Linked DNA regions of Homo sapiens. The protein of the gene in region 2 purifies or fractionates together with the protein of the main gene of each other region. This does not show direct contact. Each region holds a gene or a part of one and is shown on either strand. Other genes may lie near its edges.

The links.
Region 1: the proteins of PTDSS1 (region 2) and CTBS purify together in Homo sapiens (affinity purification with mass spectrometry; one large-scale study listed by BioGRID and IntAct). This does not show direct contact.

Annotation. Positions count from the first base shown.
Region 1 is NC_000001.11:84,560,941-84,564,440, forward strand, and holds part of CTBS (di-N-acetylchitobiase precursor), read right to left. Parts: intron 2,893-3,500; coding exon 2,795-2,892; intron 2,479-2,794; coding exon 2,317-2,478; intron 1-2,316. UniProt on the Homo sapiens protein: Involved in the degradation of asparagine-linked glycoproteins. Hydrolyze of N-acetyl-beta-D-glucosamine (1-4)N-acetylglucosamine chitobiose core from the reducing end of the bond, it requires prior cleavage by glycosylasparaginase.
Region 2 is NC_000008.11:96,303,402-96,306,901, reverse strand, and holds part of PTDSS1 (phosphatidylserine synthase 1), read right to left. Parts: intron 2,863-3,500; coding exon 2,721-2,862; intron 459-2,720; coding exon 346-458; intron 1-345. UniProt on the Homo sapiens protein: Catalyzes a base-exchange reaction in which the polar head group of phosphatidylethanolamine (PE) or phosphatidylcholine (PC) is replaced by L-serine. Catalyzes mainly the conversion of phosphatidylcholine.

The sequences.
Region 1 (3,500 bases), on a different chromosome or scaffold from region 2:
CTCTGATGGAGAACACAAGATGAATGTTATTTTCATGCCTGCTAACACAACATCCATTCTGCAGCCCATGGAACAAGGAGTAATTTCAACTTTTAACTCTTATTAATTAAGAAATAGATTTTGTAAGGCTGTAGCAGCCAAAGACAGTAACTCCTTTCATGGATCTGGCCAAAGTAAACTGAAAGCTTTTTGGAAAGGATTCACCATTCTAGATGCCATTAAGAACATTCATGATTCATGCATGGGAGGAGGTCAAAATATCAACATTAACAGGAGTTTGGAAGAAGTGGGTTACAACCCTCATGGATGACATTGAGGGGTTCAAGACTTCAGTGAAGGAAGTAACTGCAGAGGTAGTGGAAACAGCAAGAGAATTAGAATTGGAGGTGAATCCTAAATATGTGACTCAATTGCTACAATCTCGTGATAAAATTTGAATAGATGAGGAGCTACTTCTTATGAATACGCAAAGAAAGTAGTTTCTTGAGAATGGAATCTATTCCTGGTAAAATGCTGTGAACATTGTTCAAATAACAGCAAAGGATTTAGAATATTCTATAAACTTATTAATAAAGCAGCAGCAGAGTTTGATGGGGTTGACTCCAATTTTGAAAGAAGTTCTACTGTGGGTAAAATGCAATCAAATAGCATCACGTTTTACACAGAAATCTTTCGTGAAAGGAAGAGTCAATTGACGTGGCAAACTTCACTGTTGTCTTATTTTAAGAAATTGCCATAGCCACCCCAACCTTCAGCAACCACCACCCTGATCAGTCAGCAGCCATCAATGACAAGGCAAGACACTCTTCCAGCAAGCAGGTTATAACTTGATAAAGGCTCAGATGATCGTTATCATTTTTTTAGCAATAAAGTATTTTTAAATTAAGGTATGTACTTTTTTTAGACATAATGCTATTACACACTTAACAGACTACAGTATAGTATAAACATAACTTTTATATGCACAGGGAAACAAAAAATTCATGTCACTTGCTTTATTGCTATATTTACTTTATTGTGGTGGTCTAGAACTGACTCTGCAATATCTCTAAGGTATGCCTGTATATGTAATTGGTTACCATAACTTTTAACAAACCATATCCATGAAACAGTTTCTAAGAACTGCATGTTTCTAAGAATGCTGTGAAACAAGATTATATGTCAAACAATTAAACTACCTTATGTATTACAGCACTTCTCAAACCCATTAATATAATTGTTGTTACAAATCTCCAAGAGGGGCGTACAGTATATAGTGTTTTTCTAAATATATTTGGCCATGGCACACGTGTGTATATTTTGCACACATGTGCATCTGTGTGTGTAATATTAACAGTTCCCAGGACAGACTAATATAAACACTGTTTAGGAAAGATAAGATTACAATACACTCTAGTTTCACTAATAGGTATATACTTTCAGTTCCAAAGTTTAGAAAGCTCTACACTAAAGCTCTCTGTGGAGGCATACACATGTATATCAATTATAATTTATGACATGTAGTGTGTTTGCAGTCATTTTTTTATAAATGGGTACCAGACCATTAATTAAGCATATAAATCCTTGCTGAACTTCACTTATATCATTTTAGTACTCCTTTTAAAGTAACATAATCTGAAATAAATTCAAAGAGGATTTGTACTTAGATTTTTGAGCTGTGGAAGAGCCTTTATAATGCTAAAGGTAAATTATGAAAACTGTAACTTTTCTTTGCCATTTTGGTATAGCAATTCCTATTAAACACTACTTGACAGAATTGCTAATCACTTAGTGTATTTCTTCAGGTTTCCTTTATGTAATATTTTTGTAAGTTTTGACATTGCTTTATAATTTAATTATAAAATAAATTGAAAATGATAGTTTTTCCATTGTAAAGTCGATTATGACACCTCTTCTGTTCTCAGCCTCATTCCTCCCTATGTAAGTCTCATCAGAATCTGTAGGCCACTTTGAAATGGAGGCTTTCAGAGATAGTAACTTATTTTGGCCCAAAACCCATTCAAAATCAACAGTCATCCTAACATAATTGTCAACTGTTACAGAAATCCTGTTTGTGATATGCACATTTTTATGGCATCATCTAAATGACAAGTGGCCCAAGCAGAGTAGATTCACCATTAGCAAAACTCCAATTGCTCGCCAGGGAACTAAAGTTCCTGATTACAGATTCAAAGACAAGTTTACTCATGTAAATAGCAGTCTGCATGTTATGCCCTAAAAGAAAACTGATAGAAATTCTTGATATCAAACATCTAATTATGAAAATAATTACAAAAACTAATAGAATAAATGCTCATAACTTACGAAAAGTCTTACTTTATAGTTATAATAAGGAGCCCGCTGATCTTTATCCCATAGGTTTCCAGAAATAGAACTATTTATTTGCTTCATGATCGTTTTGTAGGGCACCTGACGTCCTGCAGCGTCACTACAAGGAGCCCCCCGGAAAGGGACTTTTGCAATGGTACAAACATGATCCTAGAAATGCAAAAGTGCTCATGTTATATATTATCAATTATGCAATTCTTAAAAGCCAAACCAAAAATATATAAATTATTTAGAAATAAAACATATACCATAGAAAACCTGACTATACAGAAAAAAGGTTAAAATAAATTTCATTATTAAATGAAAATGTATGATAATCATAAGCTTTCATAGAAGTAAAAATAAATAATTTTTATCTCAAACTATATTTCAGAGATTCTAAAGTTTATATATTTCTAATGAAAACAGAGAGACTCTAAAAAATATAATAGATAATAAAAATTATGTAACAAATGACTGTTCCTACCTCAGACAGATTCAGGCAGGTATAATCATAACCATACCAAGGAACACCCATTACAAGTTTCTTAGGATTAATGCTCATCTTGATGTAGTCATTATATCCTAGTCAAGCAGGAGAGAAAAAGCATATTTGTTTCTCTTCATATGTCAATGTGTTCATACAAGCTATGCAACCGTTCAGAATCTGTTTGTAAAAACAAGTACATTTATAAAAAACACTAATATTGTTTAATATGTTATAAAACATCCCTTAAGAACCATAAATTCTATATCTTGCTTTCTAAACCATTTCTCTTTGAATAGGAGAAAACATTCAAAACAATTAAGATCATACTGAAATAAAATATTCACAAAATCTAATTCTAGGAAGAATGACACATTTCAGGAAAGTATGCTAATTATATCTATTAATTCTAAGATATGATATACTTGATACTCTAGATTCTAAAGTTTCAAAAAAGTTTTATAAATCTTAACTTTCTAGCAGTGATGGTCTCAGAGTTTCTTAGAAAGTACAAGTGTTCCATGTTTTGCAAATATTCTGTAAGTAAGCTGGGGATAAGAAATGTGTCATCTATAGTGGGAGGAAACAAAGAGAAAAATGAACAAATCCCTGGAACTATCAGTCCTTTTCTTGCCCAATGCTGCAAAACATGTTTTTCCACCAAGACATATTCACAGATTACCTAGAATGTTCAGCTAAAAAACTT
Region 2 (3,500 bases):
CAGTAATCTCATTTTTAAAAAACTCAGCATCACTATGCTGTTATTTTTTTCTAATATGATGTTATAGGAGAAAAAAAGATCGGCAGTCCAAGACTGTAAAGGAATCTGATAATAATGGATAGTACTATTGGTGTGGTGTTCATCAAGTGCTTCTCTTTTTAAATGTCTGGTTAATGTTACTGACATCTGAGAACAAAACATTTTCGTCATATTCTGGATGTACAATTCTTTACGATGGTATTTTCATGGAAAATCTGCTAGTTTATATGACTTTCCTTATGCTAAACAGGACAATCTAAAGCAAGTTAATGTTCTCATATGACAGTCAGGCTTGTGCAGAATTACCTCACTGTGGGAGCTGTGATGCCACCAATAAAGAGAATTCTACCCCAACTTAATGGATGACTGGCTTGGAACACAAAGATATGCTTCAAGAAGAAGGTATTCAACTCAGTCAGCTGAAAAAGACGGAGAAATTAGTCAACCTGGTACCTCATGCTAATTCAAAATCCTCTATTCCTTAAATAGACATTCTACAATTAGAAATAATTGGTATGTTCAAAGCATTTTCAGAGAATAGATGTGGTCTTCCAAGGATTGCTATTCAAACTAGTTAACAGCCAGTACATTATGGGCAGGGAGCAACTGGAGGCCCAGGGAGAGGTGGCAGGGGTGGTGGATGGGCACATAGGGGAACAGGATTATCAGCTATTTGTCATGTTTCCTGGTTTGTATGATTGTTACTCAGCTCACACATGTGATCCACTGGGATAGTCGGGAGAGAAATGCTTTGAGCATACAGAAGTCATGAAAGCAAACCTGTGCCACAGAACACCTATGCTGCCTTACAGAAATCAGGCCAGGTCTAACAGAATTCCAAATGTAGATAAGTAAGCTCTTTAACAATCAAAAGAGGCTTGAGGCCATGCACGGTGGCTCATGCCTGTAACCCCAGCACTTTGGAAGCCCGAGGCGGGCAGATCGCCTGAGGTAAGTTGTTTGAGACCAGCCTGGCCAACATGGTGAAATCTCATCTCTACTAAAAATACAAACAGGCATGGTGGTGGGCGCCTGTAATCCCAGCTACTCAGGAGGCTGAGACAGGAGAATTGCTTGAACCTGGAAGGCAGAGGTTGCAGGTTGCAGTGGGCCGAGATCACGCCATTGCACTCCAACTTGGGTGACAAGAGTAAAACTCCATCTCAAAAAAAAAGCAAAAAAAGAAGCTGGAGACACATCTGAGAGATGACGATGGACTCGTGCAGCACACGCCTGGGACAGAGCAGATCCTCTACCAAAGGCAGTCCTTAAAAGTAGGTATGAAGGGTTGGTCCAAGTTTCAGCTGGGAGCAGTAGTACTTTTCCCTGAGGTTAGCATCCTCATGCAGTTCATCATGATGAGTAGCACAAAATATCTTGTGGCTGGGACGTGGCTGCTCTCTGCCTAGAGCCCAGCTCCAGGTAGCAAACAAGGGGTGGAGATTATGGAACGGTCACTGTGCTAGGAGAACACAGTACATAGACTGGCAGGTTCATTACAATTCCACAAAATGCATGTTGTTTTCCCATAGCACTGACTTCAAGGACACAAAATAAAAAATAGTCTAATTAATATCACATATGGAAAGCTGATCCCAGCGCAGTGCTCACACTCATGGGAACAGTGTGCTCCATCGCATACCACCAGGTGGTTCCATCCTAACGGCACTATACTACTCTCCTTGACACATCCAATCATTCCTCCTTGTAATAAAAGAAAGCTTCTGCTTTCCGTGACATTGGGCCTGATAAGGCAAAGCTTAATCCCAATCCATCTACAGTCCTGTTTTTAAAGATACTGACCTCTCCAAACCACAGTGATTACTTACTTAACTATTCACGTACACTTCTGTATGCATAAACTTCATTTATTGCGATGGGCATTGTCTCTGTGTGAACAAGGAAGATCATCTGTCCTAAAAGTGACATCTGCTAATTTTTTCCTTATGTTGGGAGTATTTTGTGTTTATGTGTCCAAAACATAATTTCTGATGACTCTGAAAGATCCTCTTCAGGCAAAAGCTGGTTTCCCTTGGCTACTTTCCAAAAGTTGTGAAACAACCTGGGGCCAGGAGCATCAGAAAAAATTGCTGTCTCTCAGAAACACAGATGCTTGATAATCTTTTGCCAAGACCCTGGGCTGTCAGAATCACTTCCGTCGTGAAGTGGGCCACTTGGAAATACAGCTTCTCTCCACGGAGGACAACACTCTGGAGGACTCAGCAAAAGGCTCCAATTCCCCAGCACTCATTTAGCACCCTACAGATTAACCAAAGTGGTAACAGCTGAGGAACAATTTTAACCAATAAACACTGAATTAGGAATGTAAGAAAAGCCTTCTCATTTGTTCCTTTGGTCTTGAAAATGATCATTCTAAAAAGCAATCCAATGCCTAACTCATTGGATGATGGATGCTAGACACAAATTATTTCACGGAATCTAATCTGTTTCTAATTTGTAATTCAAAGATCCATATTTTAAAACTGTCTTCAAAATGAGGCAAGACCTTAGGCATAACAACATCACTTTGCTTAATTATTCTACATGCCAGCTGCAGAATATTATATCTTGTAAAGTATGGAGCTGAAAAGCAATGTAAACTAATGTTAACTCTAAATTCCTAAAAAGTTTTTATTTTAGTTTTTGTTTTCCTCCCAACTTCTGGGCATCTGAAAAAATACCTGCCAGATGATCATGAAAAGGTACACTCCAGCTACTCTCTGAAAAGAAGATTTGGGGTCAAACCATCGAACATAGGTCCAGCTAGCAGGAGTGAACTGCAGAACAGCTCTCTTGATCTTCCCGGTGGTGGTATGAATGTCCCTGTAAGAAGAGAATGGCTCCAGTGAAAATCCAGAGATAAGGCAGGGGGAAAACAAAGCACAAGAAAAAAATCCTGTGCACTGATGATTTTTATAATAAATGCTCAGGACAAAGAGACTGCTTTTTATTTGAATTGTGTCTCAAAGGTCTCTCTATACAGGTAAAGCAGGTGACAGAAGCACACTCAATGAGGAATCTCATTGATGACAGGCACAGGGCAGCAAGGAGACTGTTCTCCCACTGCTTGTCTCCCACGTAAAACTGCACACACTCCATATTCTTGCATCACCCACAACACTTCTTTACCCTATTTCTTCCCCAGAGCAGTAAACATTTTGGGTTGATGAACAGTGATATTTAACCTTTCTTCATTTGCATCCTCGAAATCACTCAATTAAAAGTTTCACACACCCATGAAAGAACTAAACAGTCCTACAGTTTACAAATGCAGACATTAAGGCCCAGAGACAGCAAGTGGCTGGCACACTCAGCATGAGGAGTGGGTGCAGATTCCAGCCCTCCCTGTACTAGTCCAGGAGAGCCAAAACCCAAGGTATAATAAATACTATTTAATAACTGGTAAAGAGTCTTTAATTCCACAAATATTTATATCATGAACTTTTACGTCTCCAACATTG